Linked DNA regions of Homo sapiens: regions 1, 2 and 4 are each linked to region 3. Evidence: fine-mapped expression QTL. A gene starts in region 3. Each other region holds a variant in brackets. All regions are shown on one strand. Distances are between the middles of the regions.

Evidence for each region.
Region 1: its variant is fine-mapped to the expression of MAPK13 in whole blood (TOPMed, PIP 0.92).
Region 2: its variant is fine-mapped to the expression of MAPK13 in whole blood (TOPMed, PIP above 0.99).
Region 4: its variant is fine-mapped to the expression of MAPK13 in testis (GTEx, PIP 0.97).

Annotation. Positions count from the first base shown.
Region 1 is chr6:35,992,180-35,997,340 of GRCh38, reverse strand. SLC26A8 (solute carrier family 26 member 8) reads left to right here. Exons shown (of 20, transcript NM_052961.4): 6 at 4,667-4,831. It overlaps LOC105375035 (a long non-coding RNA gene), which reads right to left. Exons shown (of 7, transcript XR_926747.3): 7 at 4,760-4,923. Among named protein-coding and RNA genes, the nearest start is that of SLC26A8, 30 kb to the left of the region's middle. RefSeq lists an enhancer at 3,728-4,241. The variant G/A (reference allele first, on the strand shown) is at 3,141.
Region 2 is chr6:36,084,526-36,089,656 of GRCh38, reverse strand. The region is part of intron 8 of MAPK14 (mitogen-activated protein kinase 14); the gene reads right to left. Among named protein-coding and RNA genes, the nearest start is that of MAPK13, 43 kb to the left of the region's middle. The variant G/C (reference allele first, on the strand shown) is at 2,220.
Region 3 is chr6:36,128,226-36,133,386 of GRCh38, reverse strand. It overlaps MAPK13 (mitogen-activated protein kinase 13), which reads right to left and starts at 2,874. Exons shown (of 12, transcript NM_002754.5): 1 at 2,686-2,874; 2 at 1,987-2,116; 3 at 708-766. The coding sequence starts at 2,804. RefSeq lists enhancers at 1,149-1,398, 2,109-2,228, 2,120-2,723 and silencers at 1,869-1,978, 2,619-2,688, 2,729-2,978.
Region 4 is chr6:36,793,504-36,798,664 of GRCh38, reverse strand. It overlaps CPNE5 (copine 5), which reads left to right. Exons shown (of 21, transcript NM_020939.2): 5 at 171-210; 6 at 424-500; 7 at 4,016-4,075. Among named protein-coding and RNA genes, the nearest start is that of CPNE5, 43 kb to the left of the region's middle. RefSeq lists enhancers at 3,877-4,541, 4,542-5,161. The variant G/A (reference allele first, on the strand shown) is at 3,197.

The DNA.
Region 1 (5,161 bases), 140 kb after region 3:
ATGACCTGGCATTTGATTCTCATAAGGAGCATGCAACCTAGATTCCTCGCATGTGCAGTTCACAATAGGGTTTGTGCTTCCCTGAGAATCTAATGCTGTGGCTGATCTGACAGAAGGTGGAGAGCTCAGGCAGTGATGCTTGCTTGCCTGCTGCTCACCTCCTGCTGTGCAGCACCCGGTTCCTAACAGGCCACAAACCAGTACCAGTACTGGTCGGTGGCCCCAGGGGTCTGGGGACTCTTAGTCCAGAGCTCCACTCCTGATCTTACCTTTTCAAAAATTGCTTCATATTCTTTTTTTTTTTTTAGATGGAGTTTTGCTCTTGTTGCCCAGGCTGTAGTGCAATGGGACAATCGTGGCTCACTGCAATCTCCGCCTCCCAGGTTCAAGTGATTCTCCTGCCTCAGCCTCCCAAGTAGCTGGGATTACAGGTGCATGCCACCACACCCAGCACATTTTTATATTTTTAGTAGAGAAGGGGTTTCACCATGTTAGCCAGGCTGGTCTTGAACTCCTGACCTCGGGTGATCCACCCACCTCGGCCTCCCAAACTGTTGGGATTATAGGTGTGAGCCACTGCACCCAGCCAAAAGTTGCTTTATATTCTATCAACAAGAATGGACTCATTTAGCTGGGCATGGTAGCATGTGCCTGTAGTCCCAGTTACTCAGGAGGCTGAGGTGGGAGGATCACTTGAGCCCAGGAGGTTGAGGCTGCAGTAAGCTGTGATCATGCCACTGCACTCCAGCCTGGGTGGCACAGCGAGACCCTGTCTCCAAAATAATAATAATAATAAAAATAATGATGGCCTCACAGGCTCACACACTATCTTTGGGTTAGTAAGCTTTAGAGCCAGATCTGGAATCCTTTTTCTGCATTGACAAGGACCACAGCTAAAGGACAATAATATGAATGACTCATTAAAATCTCAAAACTTATTTTGGCTCTGTCTTTAATTTCCTCTGAGAGTCTATCACCAAAAGTTCATCTACTGAACTAGTCACATCCTCCAGGCTTATTTCTCTTTTTTCTCAACTAACCCAGTCTCTAGTTGATTTTCACTGATCTCCCCTGGGACTGTCTTTCACTAAGTAAAGATTTATTGGGTACCTACAAAGGCAGGCTATCAAAGTGGGCAGACTCCAGCCCTGACACTATGAGCTGTGTGAATTTTGGTAAATTATTTTACCTTGGTGGGCCTCAGTTTCCTCATGTATAAAGCAGGAATAATATTTGTTTTGCAGGGTTCTTAGGAGGATTTAGTGAAAAAAATGCATGCAAAGTATTTAGCCTAGAGCTTGTCACATAGTAAGCATCAATAAGTTATAATTAGTGGGCACAGAGAAATGAATTTGGTACTTTAACAGAGACCAAAAATTTAAAAAACAATATATAGTTTCCTGTGGTTAAAAAGTTTAATCTTGTGGGATAAGACAAAATACACAAGCAACCTTTTAATTATCAAGGGGCCTCATGCATGCTTTCTCTTCTCCTTCAAGCCTCAGCTTTTTTCATCTAAAAAAGGAAGAGGGCTGGGCATGGTGGCTCACATCTGTAATCCCAGCACTTTGGGAGACTGAAGCAGGAGGATTGCTTGGGGCCAGGAGTTTGAGACCAGCCTGGGCAACATAGGCAAACTCTGTCTCTACAAAACAAAATAAAAAAAAAAAATAGCTGGGTGTGGTGGTGCACGCCTGTAGCACACTACTATGGTCCTTATTTTAAGAAAACAAGGGCATAGAGAGGTTAAGAAAATTGCCCAAGGTCACATAGCTAAGACACCAAACTGGGATTCAGTTTTAGGGTTGTCTGATTGTAGAATCTGTGCTCTAGGAAATCTTAAGCATAAAATAATATTCATATAAGAGTTTAGTGCCAAAAGAACATGAAGTTAAAAAATAACCTCTAGTTGAGTCGAAGTTATCTGGGAAGGAAACAACTATTTATTGAGCCCTCCCTTTCATTCATTCAACATTTAGTACTGGCTTCCTATAAGAATGGCAGATAGGTTTCATCTCACAGGCCAACCCTGACTGATTAACAGTGGCTGCCTAGAATATTATGTTAACACTGAACGTGATGCCATATTACAGTGGGCAAGAAAGAGTTCTAAGGCAATTGCAGATTTTTGCCATTTACAAGATGGAAGGCAGGGATGGTATGAAGAAGAGTAACATATATTTGCATATATGAGTGATACATATTTGTCACTATTTTCACATCTGAGCTAGGTATTTTACATGTGTGATGAAATTTAATCTATTCAAAACACTTTACATTGAATATTATTCACATTTTATAGATGAGGAAACTGAGGTTCAAAGAGTTAACTTGCCCACACTTACACAGCCAATGAGTGGCTGGGCCAGGACTGAAGCCAGATTCTCCAAGCCCAGGAACCATGCTTTTTTCACCACACTCCTTAAAGGAGAGGAATTTTACTGAGCTCTTGAAAGATGATGCAGGCCAGCCACAGTGGCTCACGCCTGTAATTCCGGCACTTTGGGAGACCAAAGCGGGTGGATCACTTGAGGTCAGGAGTTCAAGACCAGCCTGGCCAACTTGGCGAAACCCTGTCTCTACTTAAAAATACAAAAATTAGCCAGGCGTGGTGCTGGGCACCTGTAATCCCAGCTACTCGGGAGGCTGAGGTGGGAGAATCACCTGAACCTGGGAGGCACAGGTTGCAGTGAGCCAAGATTGTACCACTGCACTCCAGCCTGGGTGACAGAGCAAGACTCCGTCTCAAAAAAAAAAAAAAAAGAGATGATGCACATGGATTGGCAGAGATGGAAAAAAGAGGGGCTCATGCATAAGCACAGAAGTAGGAGTCAGCCAGTCACGCAAGAAATAGGAAGCAGACTGGCCTGACTAGAGTAAAATAGAACATTGGGCGGCAATGACAGGAGATTAAGGGAGAGACAGTTGGCAGGGCGCAGTGGCTCACGCCTGTAATCCCAGCACTTTGAGAGGCCGAGGCGGGCGGATCACAAGGTCAGGAGATCGAGACCATCCTGGCTAACACGGTGAAACCCTGTCTCTACTAAAAATACAAAAAATTAGCCGGGCTTGGTGGCGGGCGCCTGTAGTCCCAGCTACTCGGGAGACTGAGGCAGGAGAATGGCGTGAACCTGGGAGGT[G/A]GAGATTGCAGTGAGTCGAGATCACGCCACTGCACTCCAGCCTGGGCGACAGAGCAAGACTCCGTCTCAAAAAAAAAAAAAAAAGAAAAGAAAAAAAAAGGGAGACACAGTGCCGGGCTGATTGAAAGCTTTGAAACAAAAACCTGTTAAAGCAAAATGATTTATTGTTCCAAATTTGTTTGTTTTCTGAGAGCTTTTAGTGGAGTGGAGAGTGAAGTGATGATTGTAAGCTTTAAGACTTCTGTTTTGCTCCTTTCCACCCTGCTTACTGAAAAGTCTTCATTGGGCTGTGCCAGTTTTCTTAACCTACCCTCTTTTTGTTTTTTATTTTTCTTGTTGTAGAGACAAAGTGTCGCCATGTTGCCCAGGCTCATCTCAAATTCCTGAGCTCAAGCGACCCTCCCACTTGAGCCTCCCAAAGTGCTGAGATTACAGGCATGAGCCACCACACCCAACCTAATTGTGGTTTTTATTATAAAAGACGAACATCTCAAATAGTAAAAAAGTGTATAAATTATCAAATATTGTCCCCAACATCTAACCCCATTCCCCAAAGGTAATTCCTGTTAATCATTTGAGGTCTATCCTTTTAGATCCTGTGTGTATAAAATTTTATTATATACTATATAACATAAATTTTACATATGCATATTGACATGTAAAATACCTTTTTTATTTTCCTTCAGGATATGCATAATCCTGAAAACATAAATAAATTCAATTTAATTATTCTCAGTAAAGATAAGAGTCAAAGGCCAAGAAGTTTGAGCTCGATCCCACTGTTTTGAAATTCTCTTCTCCTTTGTGAAAAGCTGCATTCCTCAGAGGAATGTTAACATCTCCTGAAAAGGGCTATCAAAGCTTCTAATGAAAGAGGTTTAAAAAGGCAAAGGCAGGCCAGGCACAGTGCGTTCATGCCTGTAATCCCAGGGTTTTGGGAGGCCAAAACAGGAGAATCACTTGAGGTCAGGAGTTCGAGACCAGCCTAGGTAATATAGCAAGACCCCCCCCTCCAATCTCTATCAAAAAAAAAAAAAAAAAAAATGCCCAGTGTGAGCATCTGTAGTCCCAGCTATTTGGGAAGTTGAAGCAGAGAATCCCTTGTGCCCAGGAGTTTGAGGTTACAGTGAGCTATGATTGCACCACTGCACTCCGGCCTGGGCAACAGAGTGAGATCCTGTCTCATAAATAAATAAATAGGCAAAGGCTTGTTCTGATCACCTTGTCCCTGTTTTCCCCAAGTCAACCTAGAGAGCAGTAGATTCTAGGGCAAGAACTTAAGTGAGCTGACTGCTCACAAAGAAGGAAAGGAGTAGTGTGAGCTAGCACTTGTTGGGAGCCTCTGATCAACATACAAGGACCCGTGTTATCAACTTCTGTTCATTAGGGAAAGAGAGTTACAAGAGTTACCAAAGGGGCCTATCTTAACTTTTCTATTGGAAACCCTTCTTTTCCTGGAGAGTGCCATTGGTGCCATTGCTGGATTGAAGACATTCTACCCCACTCTGGTTTTCTCTTCTCTGCAGCTAATAATGGGCGTATTGGGTTTGGGCTTCATTGCCACTTACCTTCCGGAGTCTGCAATGAGTGCTTACCTGGCTGCTGTGGCACTTCATATCATGCTGTCCCAGCTGACTTTCATCTTTGGGATTATGATTAGTTTCCATGCCGGTCCCATCTCCTTCTTCTATGTGAGTAATTTCAACTCTTACCCAGAGTTACAAATGCCACTCCTCTTGCCTCCAAAGAAAAGTGGAGCTCAGTAGGGAGACTCCCGCCCCTTCTGAAAGGAGACACAGCCTATAGGCAGCTCAGTCAAGAGGGTACTAGAAATATTTTCCTTTATTGGAGAATTAGGGTCTTGATTAATTGCAGATGCCAGTTAGACCATGCTTTCAGTTGACTAACCATTTCAGCTCAGCCTTTTAAACTATCATGATATACATTAAAATTTGGCCTTTAAGATATTGTATCTATCACAGTTCTTCTCATTACCTATCTTATAACAGACATGTATCCTA
Region 2 (5,131 bases), 44 kb after region 3:
TTAGGCCAGATGGAAGGGTTCTGCAAAGTCACAAACAAGAATAATTTCTAATCTGATAACACATTATTGGCTTTAAGACAAAAATGAGTATTTCTTATATTTTTTTAAAATTAAATTAAAGTTCTGAGATACAAGTGCAGGATGTGCAGGTTTGTTACATAGGTAAATATGTGCCATCGTGGTTTGCTCCACCTATCAATCCATCACCTAGGTGTTAAGCCCCGCATGCCTTAGCTATTTATCCTGATGCGTTCCCTCCGCCTGACCCCCACCCCACCAACAGGCCCCAGCGTGTGTTGTTCTCCTCCATGTGTCCATGTGTTCTCATTGTTCAGCTCCCACTTGTGAGAACATGTGGTGTTTGGCTTTCTGAGGAAAATGGCTTCAAGCTCCATCAGTGTCCCCGCAAAGGGCACAATCTCATTCATTTTTATGGGTGTATAGTATTCCATGGTGTATATGTACCATGTTTTTTTATCCAGTCCATCACTGATGGGCATTTGGGTTGATTCCATGTCTTTGCTATTCTGAATACTGCTGCAATCAACATACACATGCATGTATCTTTGTAACAGAATGATTTATATTCCTTTGGGTATATACCCAGTAATGGGATTGCTGGGTCAAATGTTATTTCTGGTTCTAGGTCTTTGAGGATTTCACCAGTCTTCCACAATGGTTGAACTAATTTACATTCCTACCAACGGTGTAAAAGTGTTCATATTTCTCCATAGCCTCACCAGCATCTGTTGTTTCTTGACTTTTTAATAATCACCATTCTGACTAGCATGAGACAGTATCTCATTGTGGTTTTCATTTGCATTTCTCTAATGGTCAGTGACACTGAGCTTTTTTTCATGTTTGTTGGCTGTATAAATGTCTTCTTTTGAGAAGTGTTTGTTCATGTCCTTTGCCAATATTTTTTTTTTTTTTTTGAGACGGAGTCTCGCTCTGTCGCCCAGGCTGGAGTGCAGTGGTGTGATCTCGGCTCACTGCCAGCTCCGCCTCCTGGGTTCACGTCATTCTCCTGCCCCAGCCTCCTGAGTAGCTGGGACTACAGGCGCACACCACCATGCCTGGCTAATTTTTTGCATTTTTAGTAGAGATGGGGTTTCGCCAAATTAGTCAGGATGATCTCGATCTCCTGACCTCGTGATCCACCTGCCTCAGCCTCCCAAAGTGCTGGGATTACAGGCATGAGTCACTGTGCCTGGCCCTTTGCCAACTTTTTAATGGGTTTTTTCCTTGTAAATTTGTTTAAATTCCTTGTAGATTCTGGATATTAGACTTTTGTCAGATGGATAGATTGCAAAAACTGTCTCCCATTCTGTAGGTTGTCTGTTCACTCTGACGATAGTTTCTTTTGCTGTGCAGAAGCCCATTTGTCAGTTTCTGCTTTTGTTGCCATTGCTTTTGATGTTTTCATCATGAAATTTTTGCCCATGTCTATGTCCTTAATGATATTGCCTAGATTTTCTTCTAGGGTTTTTATCGTTTTGGGTTCTACATTTAAGTCTTTAATCCATCTTGAGTTAATTTTTGTATAAGGTGTAAGGAAGGGGTCCAGTTTCAATTTTCTGCACATGGCTAGCCAGTTCTCCCAGCACCATTTATTAAATAGGGAATCCTTTCCCCATTGCTCGTTTTGTCAGGTTTGTTGAAGATCAGATGGTTGTAGATGTGCAGTTTTATTTCTGAGATCTCTATTCTGTTCCATTGGTCTGTTTTTGTACTAGTACCATGCTGTTTTGATTACTGTAGCCTCGTAGTATAGTTTGAAGTCAGGTAGTGTGATGCCTCCAGGTTTGTTCTTTTTGCTTAGAATTGTTTGGGCTATATGGACTCTTTTTTGGTTCCATATGAATTTTAAAGTTTTTTTCTAATTCTGTGAAGAATGTCAACAGTAGTTTAATGGGAATAGCATTAAATTTATAAATTACTTTGGGCAATATGGCCATTTTCATGATATTGATTCTTCCTATCCATGAGCACAGAATGTTTTTCCATTTGTTTGTGTCCTCTCTGATTTCCTTCAGCAGTGGTTTGTAGTTCTCCTTGAAGAGGTCCTTCACTTCCCTTGTTATTAATAGCTATAGTTCTGGGTATTTTATTCTCTTTTAGCAGTTGTGAATAAGAGTTCATTCATGATTTGGCTCTCTGCTTGCCTACTGTTGGTGTATAGGAATAGTTGTGATTTTTGCACTTTGATTTTGTATCCC[G/C]AGACTTTGCTGAAGTTGCTTATCAGCTTAAGAAGCTTTTGGGCTGAGACAACAAGGTTTTCTAGATATAGGATCATGTCACCTGCAAACAGAGTTTTACTTCCTCTCTTCCTATTTGAATACCCTTTCTTTCTTTCTTTTGCCTGATTGCCCTGGCCAGAATTTCCAATACTATGTTGAATAGGAGTAGGGAAAGAGGGCATCCTTGTGCCAGTTTTGAAGGGGAATACTTCCAGCTTTTGCCTATTCAGTAAGATACTGGCTGTGGGTTTGTCTTACATGGCTTATTTTGAGGTATGTTCCATCAACACCTAGTTTACTGAGAGTTTTTAACATGAAGGGATGTTGAATTTTATTAAAGGCCTTTTCTGCATCCATTGAGATAATCATGTGGTTTTTGCCTTTAGTTCTGTTTATGTGATCAATTATGTTTATTGATTTGCATATGTTAAAACAGCCTTGCATCCCAGGGATGAAGCTGACTTGACCGTGGTGGATGGATAAGCTTTTGACATGCTGCTGGATTTGGTTTGCCAGTATTTTACTGAGGATTTTTGCATCGATGTTCATCAGGGATATTGGCCTTAAGTTTTCTTTTTCTGTTGTATTTCTGGCAGGCTTTGGTATTGGGATAATACTGGCCTCATAAAATGAGTTATAGGGGAGTCCCTCCTTTTGTATGTTTGGAATAGTTTCAGAAGAAATGGTACCAGCTCTTCTTTGTACCTCTGGTAGAATTTGGCTGTAATCTGTCTGGTCCTGGGCTTTTCTTGCTTGGTAGGCTATTTATTACTGCCTCAATTTGAGAACTTGTTATTGGTAGATTCAACGTTTTCCTGGTTCAGTCTTGGGAGGTCATATGTGTCCAGGAATTCATCCATTTCTTCTAGATTTTCTAGTTTATTTGCATAGAGGTGTTTATAGTATTCTCTGATAGTTGTTCATATTTCTGCAGGGTCAGTGGTGATACCCCCTTTATCATTTTTATTGTGTCTATTTGATTCTTCTTTCTTCATTACTCTAGCTAGGAGTCTATTTTATTTTATTTTATGTTTTTCAAAATACCAGATCTTGGGAGTCACTGATATTTTTGGAAGGGTTTTTCCTGTCTCTATCTCCTTCAGTTCCACTCTGATCTTGGTTATTTCTTGTCCTCTGCTAGCTTTAGGGTTTGTTTGGTCTTGGTTCCCTAGTTCTTTTAGTTGTGATGTTAGGGTGTCAATTTGAGATCTTTCTAGCTTTTTGATGTGGGCATTTAGTGCTATAAACTTCCCTCTTAACACTGCTTTAGCTGTGTCCCAGAGATTCTGGTATGTTCTCTTTGTTCTCATTGGTTTCAAAGAACTTCTGATTTCCGCCTTAATTTCATTATTTATCCAGGAGTCATTCAGGAGCAGGTTGTCCAATTTCCACGTAATTGTGTGGTTTTGAGTGAGTTTCTTAATCTTAGTTCTAATTTGATTGTGCTGTGGTGTGAGAGGCTGTGTGTTATATTTTCAGTTCTTTTGCAGTTACTGAGGAGTGTTTTACTTCCAATTATGTGATCAATTTTAGCCTAAGTGCGATGTGCTGCTAAGAAGAATGTATATTCTGTTGTTTCTGTATAGAGAGTTCTGTAGCTATCTATCAGGTCCAGAGCTGAGTTCAAGTCCTGAATATCCTTGTTAATTTTCTGCTTGATGATCTGTCTAATATTGACAGTGGGGTATTAAAGTCTCACACTATTATTGTATGGGAGTCTAAGTCTCTGTGTAGGTCTCTAAGAACTTGGTTTATAAATCTGGGTGCTCCTGTATTAGGTGCATATATATTTAGGATAGTTAGCTTTTCTTGTTGAATTGAGCCCTTTACCACTATGTAATGCCCTTGTCTTTTTTGATATTTGCTGGTTCAAAGTCTGTTTTGTCAGAAAATAGGATTGCAACCCCTGCTTTTTTCTGCTTTCCATTTGCTTGGTAAATTTTCCTCCATCCCTTTATTCTGAGCCTTTGTATGTCTTTGCATGTTAGATGGGTCTCTTGAATACAACAGCATACTGATGGGTCGTGATTCTTTATCCAGCTTGCCGTTCTGTGTTTTTTAATTGGGGCATTTAGCCCACTTACATTTAAGGTTAATATTTTTTATGTGTGAATTTGATCCTATCATCATGATGCTAGCTGGTTATTTTGCAGACTTGTTGAGGTAACTGCTTCATAGTGTTACTGGTAAAAGAAAACAGTGTGTTTCTGTAGTGGCCAGTAAGTTTTTCCTTTCCATATTTAGTGCTTCCTTCAGGAGCTCTTGCAAGACAGGCCTGGTGGTGACGAATTCCCTCAGCATTTGCTTGTCTAAAAAGGATTTTATTTCTTCTTTGACTATGAAGCTTAGTTTGGCCAGATATGAAACTTTGGGTTGGAAATTCTTTAAGAATGTTGAATATTGGCCCCGAATCTCTTCTGGCTTGTAGGGTTTTTGCTGAGGTCCACTCTTAGCCTGATGGGCTTCCCTTTGTAGGTGACCTAGCCTTTCTCTCTGGCTGCCCTTAGTATTTTTTCCTTCATTTCAACCTTGGAGAATCTGATGATTATGTATCTTGGGGTTGATCTTCTCATGGGGTAGCTTACTGGGGTTCTCTAGGGATTTCCTGATTTGAATGCTGGCCTGTCTTGCTAGGTTGGGGAAGTTCTCCTGGCTGATATCCTGAAGTGTGTTTTCCAACTTGTTTCCATTCTCCCCAATTCTTTTAGGTACCCCTATCATTCGCAGGTTCAGTCTTTTTAAATAATCCCATAGTTCTCAAAAGTTTTGTTCATTTCCTTTCATTCTTCTCTTATCTTGTCAGCAAGATAGTCTTCAAGCTCTGAAATTCTTTCCTCCACTTGGTCTATTTGGCTATTGATACTTGTGGTTGCATTATGAAGTTCTCATGT
Region 3 (5,161 bases):
TCCAGGCTCTCCCCCTCTGCCTCCGAGCTGCTTCCTACTCCTTTCTTGCTGCTGCCAGTGTGCATCCCCCAAATCCCATCTGAACATATCACCTCCCGGCTCAAAGTCCCCAGGTCTTGAGGCTGCCTGTAGGGTCAGTCCAGATTCAGCTTGACCAAGCCAGCTGCTGGCCTCCACGTGCCACACTGACTTCTCCATCTTGTCCAAATAGTCCAGTCTCATTCAGACACTGCACAGGCAAAGCTATACATTTTGCAGCTAAATATTCTGGTTTTCTGCCATTCTGTCAAACACCCCCATCAGCCAGAGGCAGCCAAGGCTTCTTAATCCTTGCTTCATGCTAGAAAGAGCTCCAAGGTCCAGACTCACATCTGTGTCCCCAGGAAAGGTGAGTTGGTGCTAACCCTGTGAGGACTGGCAGATGTGTCTTCATGGTGTTAAAGCTGGGTAAAAAGCAAAGCAGCTGTGCAGACTGCCCCCTGCCAGGCAAGCACCCCACAAAGTCCTTCCTGCCTCTTCCTGCCTGCCTTTGGCTAAAAGCATCTTTCCAGAGAGAATCACACTTGACAGGCAAAGGCACAGGACTGCCAGGGAAGGAGGCTCTCCCCGCCACACCCGGAATAGAAACCCTAGACCCTCCCCCACCTTGCTCCCCAGCGGCATGTAAGGCCTGCAAATGCCCCAGAACCCAGTGCAGCCCAACTCACAAGTCATAGAAGTTGCGCAGGGAGGAGGCTGGGGTGAAGACATCCAGGAGCCCAATGACCTGGGGAAGAAGTCACCTGTGAGGGCTAGACAGACGCTACCTTCTCCTCCCACCTCCTCCTGGGCCCTGGCCATGCACAGGGCCATCCACCCTTTCCTAATACACCACCTCCAGCAGGAGGCATGTCTCCAACCTTCTTGGAAGCAGTAAAAAGGGCAGAGGCCTAGAGGAATCCCCTGGATTTGGAGGGAGTTTGCAATAAATCATGACAGAGAGTCAGGCTGGGGAGAAGGGAAGGTGGGGAGAATGATGTGTGCTCATTGCTGTCAAGTCTGGTGTCAGGGCAAGCAACACAAACCCACTCTCAACTCACCTAGGCAGCAGGAAAGCATAAGGGGAGGGTGGAAGGGAAAAAGGAGGGAACAGAGAAGGAGCTTTTCAGCCAGCAAACTCCCTGCCCCTGACCTTGGGTCTCCAGCCACATCCATCCTTGCCTGCCACAGGGCTGGTTCAGAGCCAAGGGCAAGATCACCCTGGCTGGAGGCCATAGGGGAGGGGTTTGCTGGAGAAGGATGGGCTTAAAATGTACATAACATTTTGAAATCATTCTTTGAAATGTCTGCCCTCCAATCTAGGTATCCTGCAGCAAAGCCTGGCTGCCAGGCCCTGAGCTGGGCCCCTGGTTTTCCCAGCTGCTTCTATCAGACAAGACAATCTGATGGTCATGTGCTCAGACCGGGAGCCTCGCTGCCGAGATTGAAACCCCAGCTCTGCTACTGACTAACCATCTAATCTGTGAGCCTTGCTGTGCTTTAGTTTCCTGTCTGTGACATGGGGGCAGTAGTACTCATATATCATGAGGACTAGACAAGTTAGTGTATGCAGAGCTCTTAGAACATAGGAAGTGCTCAATATGTGTATATTGCTATTGTTATCAGGGTCACGTGGACACAACGCTAACTAGGATTCTAGTCCCAGCTGGCCACAAGCTCTCAGACATGGAACCAATTACAAAGTTCCCCTGTGCCAATTTCCTCTGTAGGATAACACAGTCTGTACCTCACAAAGTGCATTCTGCCAAAAATACCCTTTGACCTCTTCCTGGAAAGTGGGCAGGGAAGGTCTCGGCACCCCCTCCTTTCAATAGTGAGGCGAGAGGCACCGTCAGGGGAGCAGGGAGGAGACTGTCCCGAGCTCTCCATACCGGGAGGCCCCGCCTGCGCCTGCCCCTGACTCCCCAGGGCAGCCCCCACCCCCTCCCCGGGGCAGCCACCACCTACGTTCTCATGCTGCATGTGCTTCAGCAGCAGCAGCTCCCGGTAGGCGCGCTTGGCGAAGATCTCGGACTGAAAGGGTCGGCTCAGCTTCTTGATGGCCACCTTCTCCCCTGACCGCTTGTCGATGGCCGAGCTGTCGGGCACAGGCCGGTCAGCAGGCGAGGCTCTCCTCCTGGGCCGTATCTCCCAGACCGCCCTGACCCCTCCCACTGGGCAGCTGGGCTGAGAGGGGACTAGGCCCACCACCTAGAATATGGGGGAGCCGCGGGACGCAGGGCAGGGAGTAGGAAGCCAGGCAGGAGCTGAGAGAGGGGCACAGCGCCAGGGGCAGCAACGTCTCATTGCGACGGGATCCACGGCAGGGCGGGAGTCTCACTCTGTCTGCAACTTGGCGAGCCACCTCCCCCTCTTGGGGCCTCGGTGTACTCGTCTGTAACAGTGAGGATCTGCCCGATGAACTCTGGGGTCTTGCAAGTGTACAGTCCTGGAGAACCAGGCCCAGTCCCAACTCAACCCCCAGAGACCTCACTCAGCCACTCGGTGAGAAAAGGGAGATGGCCGCTGGGTGGCCCCGGGGAGGGCGCTGGGCCTTGAGGTCCGCGGTCAAGGTGGCGCTGGCGAGGGGCCAGCCCAGGGCGGGCTGGGCGGAAAGGGGAGAGCCTGGCGCCCGCCCCCCGCCCCCCAGCGGCCCAGGGGTCTCACCACACGGAGCCATAGGCCCCGCTGCCGACGTGCGTCGGGGACACGTAGGTCTTGGGCAGCTCCCAGGCTGTCTTGTTGACGTCCTGCTTGTAGAAGCCCTTTTTCCGGATGAGGCTCATCCCGGGCACCCGATCTCGGCGGCCCCAGCGTGGCGGCTGCGTTCGCGGCCCAACGGGCTCCCAGCGCCCCGACCCCCGCTGCGCCCGCCCCGCGCCGCCCGCTCCTCCCCCGCGCGAGGGCGGGGGCCCCGGGCTGCTACGCTCCCACCTGCCGGCTCGCCCAGGTGCGCCGGGGCCGCCACGCCCGGGCCTGTCCAGCCCTGCGCTCCCGCGCTTCCGCCCGGCCCGACGGAGCCACTGCGGCAGGTGCGGCCCAGGCACGGGGTCGGGGCTGCCCAGCGGGACCCCGGTGCCTCCCAGCCGAGCGCGGGCCAGCGGCGGGGCTGGTGGGTCCAAGCAGGAGCGGGGAGGCAGTGCTTCCCAGTTCCCTCCAGCCCCGGTCTCCGTAGGAAGAGCTCCCTGTGACTGTGAACACACAGGAAAGCAGAACAAAACCCCACAACCTCTTCATTATGGAAAATGTCAAACATGCAGGAAAGAATTGAACAGAGTAAGCCAGCGCTTCTCACACTTCAGTGTGCTCAGGAATCCCCTGGGCATTTTATTTGATTAAAATACAGATCCTGACTCAGTAGGTTTGGGGTGGAGCCGAGATTCTGCATTTCTAGCCAGCTCCCAGGTCTGAGGCTTCTGAACCACATCTGATAGGAGGTTCTAATGAACCCCCGTGACCCCAATTCCCCAGCAACCACAACTCATAATCAATTTTATTTCATCCACATTCCTCTCCCACCATCGTTTTGAAGCAAAACCCAGGCGTCATATCATTTTATTCATAAATATTTTTGTATCTCTAAAACGTAAGGATTTTTAAAAGTACGTATCCACAATACTATATATATATATTTTTTGAGACTCTGTCGGAGTGCAGTTGCCATCTCGGCTCACTGCAACCTCCGCCTCCCGGGTTCAAGCAATTCTCTGCCTCCGCCTCCCGATTAGCTAGGATTGTAGGTGCCTGCCACCAAACCCGGCTAATTTTTGTATTTTTAATAGAGATGGGGTTTCACCATCTTGGCCAGGCTGGTCTTGAACTCCTGACCTCGTGAACCACCCGCCTCGGCCTCCGAAAGTGTTGGGATTACAGGCGTGAGCCACCGCGCCTGGCCCACAATACATTCTTAAACCTAAAATTAATAGCACTAATTCTATAATACCAAATATCCACGCAGGTTCAAATGTGCAGGATTTTTGTTTGTTTTTGACATGGAGTCTCACTCTATTGCCTAGGCTGGAGTGCAGTGGCGCCATCTCAGCTCACTGCAACCTCCGCCTCCCAGGTTCAAGCAATTCTCTTGCCTCAGCCTCCTGAGTAGCTGGGACTACAGGTGCACACCACCACTCCTAGCTAATTTTTGTATTTTTAGTAGAGACGGGGTTTCACCATGTTGGCCAGGCTGGTCTTCAACTCCTGACCTCAGGTGGTCCGCCCACCTCAGCCTCCCAAAGTGTTTGGATTACAGAAGTGAGCCACCGCACCTGGCCCAAATGTGCAGTTTTGAACACAGTTTCTGTGGACTTCCTAAGGCTCTATGAGGACAATGACTAATTGGGGCCCTTGCCACCTGTCTGGTGGCCTGTGCAGCCTGATGGAGATTCTTTGCTCAAACCACAAAGGCCTCTGAGGAGCAAGGTGGGCAGGTGGGGGGAGGAGATGGCTGCAAGGGCTCTGGATGCCCAGCCTGACTTGTCCAACCCCTCTCTTGCCCAGGCATGGGGCTGTGGAAGGGGCGGGGACCACCTGCTTCACTTTGTCAAAAAGAAGGTCTATTGAACAAGGAAAGAAATTTGCTAGGGGCTTACAGCAAGCCGGGGGCCCACACTAGGGAGTCTGCAGCCCCCAAACTCTGTGCCCCAAGCCCTCCCGGGCAGTCCTGCAGCCTCAGGCACAGCCTGGAAGATCATTCTGAGATGAGGGTGGGGTGCCATCATCACACAACAACACCTGCCATTATTTCAGTCAGGCAATCTGTCTTTTTCATTTCTGGCACATGGCAATATAACAGCAAATGTGTGGAGAATGAATGGAGGAGTCAGCCCATTAGATGTAAAAGAGTCATTTAATACACACTTGTGTTTGCCATGTGCCCGTCATTAAGTGTTTTATATAACTCACTTAATCCTGGTAAGAGGCCTGTGAGTCAGTAATATGATTATCCTCATTTTAGAGATGAGGAACCCGAGGTACAGAGAGGCTAAGTAATTTGCCCAAGGTAACACAGCTGGTAAGGGCAGAGCTGGGTGAAAGCAAGTACAGCCTGATTCTAGAGTCCCTGCTCTTGGCTGCGAGGCTATGCGGTGGCCTAGAGTTGACAGAATTGCTCCTCAAAGGAAATGGCCTTGCCCACATCATAAGG
Region 4 (5,161 bases), 670 kb before region 3:
CAGCACCCAGAAGGCTCCCTGTCATGTCTTCCAACCATTACTCCTAGAAATATTCACTGTGTTGGGACCTGTTTTTTGGGGGACAGGGGCCCTGACTCAACTTGAGAACCCAGGCAGGATTGGGCAGAACGTCCGCAGCTGCCTTCATCGTTTCTCTGTGTTCCCTGCAGATACGACGTTGACTCTAAGAGTCCTGATTTATCCAAACACGTGAGTTCTGCCAGTAACTGCTCAGCAATTCCATAGTTTCTGAAATGCCATCCTCTGGGTGAGCCTGGGGCTTTGCTGTGATGGAATGTGTGTCCGACGCTGCGTCCTGTCATTTAAGGGCCCTCACGCTTCCAGGAATTGGGCGATGGGGGAGGTGGGATAGCTGTGAGCAGAGTGGGTGACACTGGTCTCTTCTGTTCCCTGGATATGCAGGATTTCCTGGGCCAGGCCTTCTGCACCCTTGGAGAGATTGTGGGGTCCCCTGGGAGCCGCCTGGAAAAGCCCCTCACGTGAGTGTCTGGGTTGCTTTCCCAGTGGTAGGCCAACTTCCCGCCCATTCTGCTGGGGGCTGGCTCAGGATGGGGACAAAGCAGTCAGCTGGCTATGACTGGCATCTGCAGGGTTATTAGGAATAAAGAGACCCCATGCCTCACTGCTCTCACAGGGCTTCTAATCCAGGTATTTCAGGGGAACCCAGGATGGGTTATTAGAGTCCCATCTCCTGGGAAGGCCCAGGAGGAAATAGACTAGACACCATATAGTCTATTCCCACCCTGACCCCTATCATAGTGTGGAAGAAGAAACTGAAGCCCAGAGAGGGGAAGTGACTTGCCCAAGGACACACAGCTAGGAAGAGGGAGAGCTGGGAGCTGGGATTTGAACCCAGGGCTCTACTCACATAGCATATTCCTAAGATTGTTCACAGCTTGTAGGCCAGAGCTGGGTACAGTGAGGCTCCTCCCGTCCCATCCTGTCCCTGATGGTCCCTGACCTTAATTTGCTTTTAGGGAAAAGCTGTTACTCTGAAGCGGGCTCTGGGATGAGGAATCCAAGGCTTCTCACAGTGGAGCCTGATGATGTCTTCAGGGACCAGCCAGGGCTGGCCGTGTGGTGAGGGTGACCTCTCTTGTCCCTATTTCTCAGGAAGTACCAGGGGCAGGGCCCTTGCCTGTATAAACGATTCTTACCTTTCCCCACACTGGGGAACACTGGTCACCATTCTTTGGTGTCCATATTTCTCTGGACGGCCACCCTCACACTTTGCATTTAAATAAACTAATTTAACTGGATCCCGAGGCTTTTGATTATTTTAGGTTGACACTCGTGGGCAGGGCCCAGGAAAGAGAGGGCAGACTGGGACAGGCATCCAGGCCACAGGGCAAAGCGGCCGGGAAAGGGAGATCATCAGATCTTCTGCCAAGTTCCCACTGGACGCTGTCCCCTCACCATGATCAATAACTGCAGTGTGAACCGGGCACGGTGGCTCACGCCTGTAATCTCAGCACTTTGGGAGGCCAAGGCGATGGATCGCCTGAGCTCAGGAGTTCGAGACCAGCTTGGCCAACATGGTGCAACCCTGTCTCTACTAAAAATACAAAAAAATTAGCTGGGTGTGGTGGTGCACACCTGTAGTCCCAGCTACTCTGGAGGCTGAGGCACGAGAATCACTTGAACCCAGGAGGTTGCAGTGAGCCGAGATTGGGCTACTGTACTCCAACCTGGGCAACAGAGTGAGACTCTGTCTCAAAATAATAATAATAATAATAACTGCAATGTGTGTGTGTGTGGTCTCTCTTCCAGATCCTTGCCCGTGACCCCCAGTAACTCATGATAACTTCAGGGCCCCCGGAAATGTTTCCTTGGCCCCCAAAAGGTCTCATCTCTGGGTTCCTAGAAAACAGTGAAAATAGCTATCATTTATTGAGAATGGGGGAAAACCCCTGTTTTGGGGGTCTCTATAGCTTATAGAATTTGAGGGCCTCTTGCAAAAAAGCATACAAAATTCACATTCATATTTGCTAGGCCCCTCCCTCTTAGGACTTATTTCTAACAGTTTTCATTCGTAATTTTATATTCTTTCTCTAGGAACATCTGCCCCTGTGCCCACTTCAGTGTTAACCATGTGCTGAGTGTAGCATACCCATTAGCATCTGCTCTTTCCAGCAGCACCCCCACCCGTGGCTTTACCTGGGTTGCCAGGATGGAGATGCCCTATGAGGGAGGGTGTCTGTGCTTCCCAACTCCCAGCTGCCTGGGTCCAAAGCCACTAGTCATTTGGGTCTGTTTCCTTCCTGATCTCACCTGGTCCACCGTTGGTGACAGGAAACACCCTCTGGGGGTGGGGGAGTATTGAGGGAGACTTCCTATGGAGATGGCTTTTGAAACTGAGCCTTAAAGGACAAGCAAGTTCTAAAATATAGAGGTTGGCAGGGCTCAGTAGCTCATGCCTGTAATCCCAGCACTGTGGGAGGCCGAGGCGGGTGGATCACCTGAGGTCGGGAGTTTGAGACCAGCCTGACCAACATGGAGAAACCTTGTCTCTACTAAAAATACAAAAATTAGCCTGGCGTGGTGGCACATGCCTGTAGTCCCAGCTACTAGGGAGGCTGAGGCAGGAGAATCGCTTGAACCCAGGAGGCGGAGGTTGCAGTGAGCTGAGATTACACCACTGCACTCTAGCCTGGGTGACAGAACGAGATTCCATCTCAAAAATAAAATAAAATAAAATAAAATACAGAGGTTGACGGCAATGTTGGAGGAGGAGGTGGACCTTTTACCCCATCGAAGATTTCACATATCTTAGTTTAGTTGTCTTCCTGACTAAACCCTGTGAACAGCTCCTGTTTACTGGGCATCTATTTTGGGCCAGGCATGAGGGTCAGTGTTTTGCTTGTGAAATCTGTGTTAGTTCGCTGGGACCATTGTGGCAAATACCACAAACTGAGTGGCTTAAATAAGAAAAATTGATTTTCTCACAATTCTGGCGGCTAGACGTCGGAGATCAAGATGTCAACAGAGTTCATGTCTTCTGAGGATGGCTGTCTTCTTTTTCATCTCTGTGTCTTCAGATTGTCATCTCTCTGTGCACCTCTGTGTCCTAGTCACCTCTTCATATGAGGACACCAGCCATTGGATTAGGGTCCACTGCCATGACCTCATTTTACCTTAATTACCTCCTTAAAGACCCTATCTCCAGGCTGGGCAT[G/A]GTGGCTCACGCCTGTAATCCAATCACTTTGGGAGGCCAAGGTGGGCAGATCACCTGAGGTCAGGAGTTCGAGACCATCCTGGCCAACATGGTGAAACCTCGTCTCTACTAAAAATACAAAAATTAGCCGGGCATGGTGGTGCGTGCCTGTAGTCCCAGCTACCTGGGAGGCTGAGGCAGGATAATCACTTGAACCTGGTAGGTGGAGGTTGCGGTGAGCCGAGATCACGCCACTGCACTCCAGCCTGGGTGACAGAGCGAGACTCTGTTTCAAAAATAAAAATGAAAATAAAAAAATAAAAAAGACTCTATTTCCAAATATAGTCACATTCTGAGGACCTGGAGATTAAGATTTCAATACATGAATTTTGGGGGATACAGTTCAGCCCATATCATGATCTCATGTGATTCTTCCAGCAGTCTCCCCATCTTGCAGTCTGGATGCGGAGTCTGGAAAGGGAGAACAGGGGTTCCCAAGCTGCAGCAGGTACCAGTGTCACCAAAGATTGCTGGGCTCCACCCCGCAGAGTTCCTGATCCTGTGGGTATGGGCTCGGCCTGGGAATTTACATTCCTATTAATAACATTCCCAGGACATGCTGGTGCTGCTGGTCTGGGCATCCCACCTTGAGAACCACTGAAGGAGAGGAATTTGCCCAGAAGAAGGACTCCACTTGCTCTGGCCTGTGGCTTTGATCCTGTTTTAATGACTTCCAGAGCAGCCGCTTGTCTCCAAGCATCTGGATGCCAAGTGCGCTGGCCTGTCTGGGTGGGGGTACTCAGCTCATGGCATGCTCTCTCTCCCCCTCTCTCTCCACAGGATAGGCGCATTCAGCCTGAATTCCAGGACGGGCAAACCCATGCCAGCTGTGTCCAACGGGTACGTTGCCAGACATCTCTGGCCCTGGAGTCCTTAGACATTCAGCCAGCTCTGCAAAGGGGGCCTCAGAGTCTGGGCCTCGTCCCTGCTCCCATCACTGCGAATTTGGCCCTGATCCGGGGACAGAGAGTCCTGGGTTCCTCCTTAGGCACCCAGGCTCTTTGGGCCCTGAACAGAGGCCCCCACTCGGCAGTGGGCCCCTCCCCCATCCAAGCTAGAGCTTGGGCATCTCAAGCCCCAGTGGCTCCTGGGACTTCAGGGAGAGGGTGGGGCTTACAGGTGGGGGATGTTGTCTATGAATAGCGGGGCTGGGCACTCTCTGTTCCCTTCCTCTCTCCCTGGCCTGGCTTCTCTAGGCCCCCAATCCCCACCCTTCTCTCCCCCTCTTTCCTCCCCTGTCTTTATCCTTTCCCCCCTGTTCCCCTCCCTTGTTTTGGCTGCTGGATGTCCGCCTCCTCCTCACCACAGAGTAGATCCAGCTGAATCCCCACTTTTCACGTTTGCTCGTTTGCTCGCCAGCTGCGGTGGGCCAGCCTCACTCCACCACCCTGACCATCTGGCTTCGGCTGGCCTCATGCAAATGTGGCCAACGCAGAGCCTCCCCCTCCTTCCCTCCCCTTCTTTCCCGGTTGGGGAGTTCCCACCCTGGCTTCTTTCTCACGCCCACTCGCCCACTGGGGCTGGAGGTGGGGGTGTGCAGGGCAGGGAACCTCTGCCTGGAGGGGCCTCTGCAGAAGGGCATTTTGTTGGGGTAAGCAGAGCTCCCCTGGCCTTCCCTGAGAGCTCTCAGGAATTGAGGTTGCAGCAGCTGGATATGCCACTGGACCAGCTGCAGGTGGGGAAGGGGCCTCCGGCGGGCCCGGGGATGCTCACAGCCCAGGGAGAGCATGGATGCTAATTCACCTGGAGAGTAGAGAAGCAGCAACTGGGGAGGCAGCAGGAGTCAGACAGAGATACAAAGACAGGGAGGGAGGGAGAGAGAGAAAGGAAGGCCAAGAAGGTGGGAGCAGGTTGGGGCTGGAGAGGAGGGAAAGAAGGATCGGAAATAGAAGAAGGACTCAGAGGCAAAGAGAGGAACAGATGGAG